2 linked regions of the Homo sapiens genome follow. The protein of the gene in region 2 interacts with the protein of the main gene of each other region in a biochemical or structural test. Each region holds a gene or a part of one and is shown on either strand. Other genes may lie near its edges. The genes, in order: SYTL4 and RAB27B.

The links.
Region 1: the proteins of RAB27B (region 2) and SYTL4 form a complex in vitro, tested with the Homo sapiens proteins (one study listed by BioGRID).

What each region holds. Positions count from the first base shown.
Region 1 is NC_000023.11:100,730,326-100,733,925, forward strand, and holds the start of SYTL4 (synaptotagmin-like protein 4), read right to left. Parts: upstream 1,797-3,600; 5' UTR 1,679-1,796; intron 1,210-1,678; exon of another isoform or gene 1,181-1,209; 5' UTR 1,093-1,180; intron 1-1,092. UniProt on the Homo sapiens protein: Modulates exocytosis of dense-core granules and secretion of hormones in the pancreas and the pituitary. Interacts with vesicles containing negatively charged phospholipids in a Ca(2+)-independent manner.
Region 2 is NC_000018.10:54,826,288-54,830,412, forward strand, and holds the start of RAB27B (ras-related protein Rab-27B), read left to right. Parts: upstream 1-2,189; 5' UTR 2,190-2,413; intron 2,414-4,125. UniProt on the Homo sapiens protein: Small GTPase which cycles between active GTP-bound and inactive GDP-bound states. In its active state, binds to a variety of effector proteins to regulate homeostasis of late endocytic pathway, including endosomal positioning, maturation and secretion.

The sequences.
Region 1 (3,600 bases), on a different chromosome or scaffold from region 2:
AAACATATACTTGGGCTTGGAAGACAATTTTTTAATCACTTAGTCCTCATCCATGAGCTATTCAGTGTTCCCAACATCTAAGACAACAGAGGTGGTGTGACAGGATAGGAACACAAGCTCTGCCTCCGAGATTTTGAGGGCAAGGCACTTAACTTCTCAGTCTCTTTTTCATCATAATATGGTTATAACTGTAGCACCTACTGTATAGAGTTATTGTGAGGATTGCATTTTTATGTAAAGAACTTATCACAGTGTCCAGCTCAATGGAGCCTAACAACCAGAGCCTAACAAGCTCAGAGAGCCAGAATGCTACATATACTCACAGATCAATTACCCCAGAACAGGCCTCCAGCTCCATTTCACTGCTCTGACCAAGAGTGAGACACCTGAAATTGTGTTACCAGAAATGTTCATCCTCTGCCCAAAAAGGGCCTCACAAGCCAAGTTGGTGGTGCTTTTCTACTAGGGTGCTAAAAACCAAACAACCAAAAACGCAGAAAACTTCATCAAGGCCACGTCTCTGCATTAAACATTGTTCCCACAGCGACAAAAGTCTTAAGTCATTAATACCTCAATATTAATAGATTTATGAGAGGTGGGGGTGGGGAGCTTAAAGAGCAGAAAATAAGCCAGTTAAATATAGGAGGTCCAGGATGTACAGAAGACTCATTTTTGCCACAAATATACAAGGTCTAGGGTCAACCCTGCCAAGCACAGTACTCTGGAATTTTACGTCCTCTAATCCTGAAGAAGCAGGGTACTGGGGGAAGAAAAGCTTGATTAGAAAGTCACCACTTTTCAAGCCACCAGAATTCTAACCAAATGATTTCACCACCCCAAATCCCACCTCATTCAATGTTAAGGGTTGGAGGAACACCTTTTTCTGCCCCATTACAAACCAACACAGGAGACAGAAGCATTCTGTGCCCCTTCTGAGATCTCGGGGACCCTCCTCCAGTACCAGATCTCTCACAGCCTGCTTGAAGAGCGGCAATATAAAGCAGCTCCACAGCACACAGCCAGGTCCCCAGCCCCAAGCGCAGAGGGAGCCCACTGAGGCAGGACTCCAGCCAACCAGCCTCCAGCCTTTACCTGTGGCTGACTGGCCAACGCCAGAGAAGCCGCGATGTCGTAGGTCCGAAGAGAGTGCGGGTTAGCGACCCCGCTCGACGGCCGAGCGCTGTGAGAGGAACCCACGAAAAGGTGACTGGACGCCTTGGAGGGCGCAGTTCCCGCTAGGAGCTCGGCCCCGCCCCCGCCCCCAGGGCCAGCTCTCGGGAGGGGCACCAGCTCGGGCTGGCGGGAAAAAGCCCGGGCACTCCCCGCGAGGGGAGCCGAAGAGGAGAGGGGAGGCGGCTCCCAGAGGGGCACAGACCGCATTAGTGCTGGGTGGGTCAGGGAAGGGGCCAGAAGAAGCCCTGGAGAAAGAAAAGTGGCCGGGAGGGACCGCCCAAGCAGACGGGAGTCCAAGCCTGGGGATGCGGTCGGGAGAGGCGGACGGGGAGAGGGGAGACGCGGTCAGCTAGGGAGAAGGAAAAATTGGGGGACCAGAGAGCGGGTAGGGAAGACGCACGACCCCGAGATGGGGGTGGGGGCGCTTCAGCAGCGAAAAGGAGCTGGGGGTCCAGAAGGAGCACCGGACCGAGGGCGAGGGGCCGGCCGCTGGCTGTTGACCTACCTGTCACTTGCAACAGGTGCCTCCAGAGATCGAGAAGTCCCAGTGCCGGTTTCAAGGGAGGGTCTCCGGCTCCGGGAAGATCGCAACCCAGCTCCGGCAGCCGGCCCTTCTCACCCTCCCGGGAGGCGGAAAAAGCTGCAACTTTCCCTGGAGCGGGGAGGAGCTGGACTCTTAAAGGGGCCGCACAGCGCCCCGGGCTCCTTAGCAGGGGGCCACTCAGCCCAAAAGGGAGCTCTGGGACCCAAAGCCTTGAGACACAAGAGGAATGTCCTTCCAGGTTAGGAATGGGAGCCTGGGGACTGAGGATAGGGGTCTAACACTAGACGTGCCTCCTCACCCACTTACTTCCATCTGTTGGTCACTCTCTTAGACGGTGAAATCACCTGTCTCTTTCGTTCAGCTGAGTCAAAAGTTGTCAAATTGTCTCACACTTCTAAGAAGATAAAAGAGTATGAACTATCTAATTTGAGTAAATAAAATATAATACCATTCTGATCCTTTGACTTGTGGCCTTTTATGGCAAATAAATGTCTGTCTAAAATAGAAACGTTTTGGGCAAAAGCGTAGACTAAATTCATACATACACACTCAAGGACACAACTGGTTAAAATATCCAACTCACTAGTAATCAAAGAAAAGCAAATTAGAACAATAATGAGATTCTTTGGCAAAGATATTTTTTATTTTTTAATAACACTTAATGATGACAAAGTAGCCACCAAACAAGCTGTCTTAATTGCTGATAGCAGCATATGTTGGTTAAAAACCCTTTTAGAAAGCACGTGAGCAATATGTATCAATAGACTTGAAAATGTTTATACCTACCCAGTAATTGCAGATTCCTCTCCCTGCCTCTCCCATCCCTCTCCCCCTCATTTCACATCAGCAATTAAACATGCTCAAGTATCTACCATCTTAAAAAAAGAACCTCCCTACACAGGAGGTCCCTCTTCAGGTCCTCTTTATGGGCAAATGTATTGAAAATGTACTTCACAGGTGAAATTGCAATTTTTATTCCCTTACTTCTCATTCATTTCTTAGCTCTCAGCAGTCTGGCTTCCTTCCCCCACTGAAACTTCTCAATGAGATACACAAACAATGACCCTCAGTGTCAATAAATCCATAAATAAGTAAGGTATTTTTGGTCCTTATTTTGCTTGACTTCTCCCCTACATTTAACACCGTTAACCATTTCCTCGTCCTTGAAACTTTCTATGGCATCTATGACATTTTACTCTTTTGCTTTTCCTCCTACTCCTTTGCCCTCTCCTCAGTGACCTTTGTAGGCCACTCTTCTGCTATCTGACCTCTGAAAGTCAGACATTCTCAGGGCTAGGATACATATACTCCCTCCCCCAAATAATCTTTTTCACTCACTTGGCTTTAATTACCATATATATGGTCACAACTCTAATTCTATAACTCTACCCAGACTGCTTTATTGAGTTCTGTGTTCTTGACATCTCCACTTGAATGTCCTGCAGACACCTCAAATTCAACACATCCAAAGTTAAACCTACCATCTTTTCTCTTAAATTTGTTCCTCCTCCAGTATTTCTTATATCAGTAAATGACAACATGCCACTCAAGGCAATGGATTCACCATTCTAGATGCCATTAAGAACATTCATGATTCAACGGAGAAGGGCAAAATATCAACATTAACAGGAGTTTGGAAGAAGTTGATTCCAACCCTCATGGATGACTTTGAAGGGTTCAAGACTTCAGTGGAGGAAGTCACTACACATGTGGTAGAAATAGCAAGAGAACTAGAATTAGAAGTTGAACCCAGAGGCCAGGCACAGTGGCTCACGCCTGTAATCCTAGCACTTTGGGAGGCCGAGGCGGGCAGATCACGAGGTCAGAAGATCGAAACCATCCTGGCTAACACGGTGAAACCCCGTCTCTACTAAAAATACAAA
Region 2 (4,125 bases):
ATTATTATCATGACACACAATGCTGTCACCTTGTTTTCACTGGTTTTCCACTGTTTTTTATTCTGCTCTACCTCTGGTCAAAGTGGCCTTCATGGAGTGGCCAAGCAACATTTCTCTTATGTCTTCCTACTCTTTCTCTTCCTTGGAACCCCTCTTCCCAGGGAAGGAAATGTTCCACCACTCTCTGGTAGTGTCACTATGTAACACTACTGAATCTGAGCCTTGGAACCTCGGAGACAGGACCATATGTGGCAAGTCACTCCAGGAGAGCTATCCCTGCAAGAGTTGGCCCTATAAAGCAGGTGACACACTTATCTAGGGAAAGGTGGCAAGGAGAGTCATCAATAAATGTGTGTGTCAGATTTTCTTATGGCAGGAACCTTTTCTAGAAGTTGCAGTGAGGTAGTACAACACAGTGACCACTGTGAGCTCGGCATTCAGGATCAATAGACCTGTCTTCCACCTTTTGAACTTCATCACTTTGGACAGATTTACTGCGACTTTCTCAACCTCAGTTACCTCATTCTGAAAATGGAGACAATAAATATAATAGACGCCTTGCCTATTTCACAGTAATGTTGTGAAAGCCAAATGAGATGAAACTCTATTGCATACAGGAAATAATAGCTATTAGGACTAATGTCAGTAGTGAACACATGAACTAGATAAAGAATATGGGTTATCATTGTATAGCACAGAGGGTGATTTTAAGTCAATGTGTTAACAGTGGAAAAGATTCAAGGCTCTTATGTTCTTTCTTTTATTTCTGTCTGGGCCCATGGACACACACTTCTTATATACTTAGATATTGCTGTTAAATGCAAAGTAGATTTATCATAAATATAGATTCCAAGCATACATACTTTGAAAATCTACAGGCTGAGCCTCAAAGACTTTTATGCAGTAGATCCAAAATAATTTTTAGGAACTGGATCTTACTTGGGGAGAATGGAATAGATTGTTACCAAAATTATAAGTATAGCCAACACATTCATAGAACTTACTGTGCCAGGCACGTTCTACACACATTACTGATATGAAGTCAATTCTTCACAATAACACTATGAAGACATTATTATTACTCTTCTTTTCAACTTTCAAGAACATTGAAGGACATAAAATAGAACTTCTTTAATAGTTTCATAATAGAATAGACAGATTTCTATGAGACCAAAATGTTTTCTCTAATATTCCATTTTTCCACTAGTTTGCTATTGTTTGTTTTGTGTTTTGGTTTGGGCTATTCCTTTGCTCCCTTCTACAAGAAATTCTCTGGGAGCTGATAACAGCAGTGCCTCCCAGATTGTCTCTAGGGCATCGAATAAGAAACAAGTTAAGTAATTAAAATTCAAGCAGTCATTGGCATCTCGTTGTTTACTAACATGAATGCAAGACACAGGTTTGGAACTTTTAAATTTTGTTCACAGAGGAGTAAATCGGTTGTTATTATAATGTACCTAACCTTGTATTCTTACCTTTACTACCAGTCTGTAAATTAGGGATGTCTGAATGTGTCTAAAATGGAATCCCAAGATGGGCAGCCAGGATCTTTGCTTTGTGGACGAATCTAATGTGTTTAGAACACGGCATAGCACATAGTAGGTGCTTAACAAATACTGGTTCAATGCCTCCGTGTGCTCATTATCTTACTTAGTGGTAACCTATTGATCTCTGAAGTGACTTTAGGAAGTGAATTAGGGCTTTGGGAAGTGAATTTGGATGTTGCATACTGATTAATGCATTCATACGAACACATCCTAACTTTTAAAATATTAATTTCTTTCCAACGCCCTCTTTTATTTCCCGAGGCCATCCTCTGCTCCCCACTCGCAATCCCTCGCCTTCACTCCTCATAGTTAATGAGACACCCCCTCGGAGGAGAGAACGCAATGTCAGGGCCCCAGTTCTCACAGCGCCCTGGGCTCTTTGAATGAGAGACATCAAAGAAAACACAGAACAAAAATGAATAAAAATGAGCTCGCTGGTAAGGCTAGAAGCCCCACAGTGTGGAGACTTCATCCCCGAGAGGAGTGTGTTTCTCACTGCAGCAGTTGAGTCACCAGCAAGACTTGCCTGAGGTGAGCTCCGCACATCCGCGTTGGGACTTGCAGACACGCCTTCTTCTCACACAAACCTTACCCAGCCCCGCCGCCGCGGCGGACTCCGAGGGTGGTGCCACCAGCCCTGCCACTCGCAGTCCTGACGGGCAGGGGCTGCGGACCGCCCGGCCTTGGACCCATCCGGAGCCACAGGTTGGAGGAGATAAGTAGCTGTCCCCGTGCTCATCGCCCTGTGGAGCAGATCCTGTCTCCTTGCTGACGGTGGAGCCCGGGAGTTCCAGGGCTTGGGAAGGGGAAGGAAACCTCTCTGAAATCTGACACCTGCTCTCCCGGCAAGGAAACTTCGCAGGCTGGTGAGTTGGGAAGGCGGGCTGCTGCTGCTGGAACGCGTTCCCACCCACCCGGGTGCTGCAGCGCCGGCCTGCGCCGTGGGAAGTGAGGCCTCTGTGTGTGTGTGTGTGCATGTGTGAGTGCGTGTGCACCTTCGATCGCGGTTTCCAGCAGAAATCCTTGCAAAGAAGACAGTAGTGCTGTGTGCTGCACGGATGGCATGGGCCAACTCGACCTGGCTCTCCTTGAGTGTTTGCTTATCAAACAGCTGGTTACCACCAAAAAAAGCAAAAAGAAAAACAAAAAGCCTAGGCACAGCAATGCCAATTTCCTTTCATTTGCATCTCAAAAAACAATCAAAATAATGAATAAGAAAAAGCATGGATGATGATGTGCTCAGAGTTTCATTCCAGGAGGAGCGACTTAGTGAGGCAAGCCAGGAGAGCAATAAGACATTTATATGCACTTCCTTAGATGAAATAGCCACAGAGACCTTAAGAGTACTTTCTGTTTTCCAATTTTTTGCTCTGTTACTTTCGAATTCTGATCTAAGTGTTGCACCAACTAGGGTATATGTGTGCATGTGTGTTCACCCAACTGATCACAATAAATTAGCTTTCAAGACTTTCCCACCCAATGCAACATTAATTAAGCCTCTGAAAACTACTGAAGTAGGTGAACTGTAAGCAGAGACTGCATTCCTAGGAAAAAGCTGTGTTTGGTTAGAGCCTTCACACCTGTATCATGTTTTGTGAGTTTTTTATGTCAAGATGTAAAGCTAAGGGTATGTAATTCCAGTTGTTTTAAACTGCACATCATTAAATTAAGCCCAAAGTAATAACATAAATTTCAAGGTTATTAACAACAAAATTATTGTTTAATATAATACAGCTCTGAATTTTGATTTTGTTCTGTTTATAAGAAAAATGTCTACAGTTCTCAATATTTAGTTATATTCACACATATTCATTCATATATAGAATATACAGGGTTTTATGGTTATAAATTTTGAAAAGTTGAGGGAAAGGATAGACTTAAGCATTAATATAAACTCAGATATTTAAGTTTAATGAATTTTCAAGCTGCTGTAAAGTCCATATTGCAGTGATGAAGAGAGAGACATACCTGTCATGTGCCATTGCCCCTCAAATAGTTATTTTTCATAGTTTCCTAGCATAATCCTCTACCCAGATGGGGTCAGCCATCCTTGAAGGCAAGAGGTGATTCCTACCAATGACCAAAAAGGGGTAATCTTGACAGATAGTTTAATATTAATGGAGCTTTTCTGTTTCAGAATTGACTATGGCCTCTCATACAGTGTTACTGTCATTGCTTTCGAAAGGAAAACAAAACATAGCAGATAAAACTGGATGAGCCTGTTCTCATAGTTGCCAAGAAGGGATAAAGGGAATCTGTTGAATGTAAGCAAACCACAGTTCCCCTTTCTCATAGGTCATTTCTGGAACAGGCATGTTTGACCCAATAGGGAAGGTAACCCTAATATAATTGATCTTCTTGGTAGAAGATCAGTTGGTATGCCAGTTTACACTACAACTGTATGTTGGTTTCAGAATTGCTGTTCATTTATTTCACTGTTTTTCTGGAAAAATGGAAGTTATCCAAATGTCCAGGTAGTTCAGAATAGAAACCTGCTCTTTTCCCACCCTCACTCCTGCAAATTTTTGGTTAGGTTTTTGGGCTCTCAGATCAGTACGGCATGAAATATAGAACAATT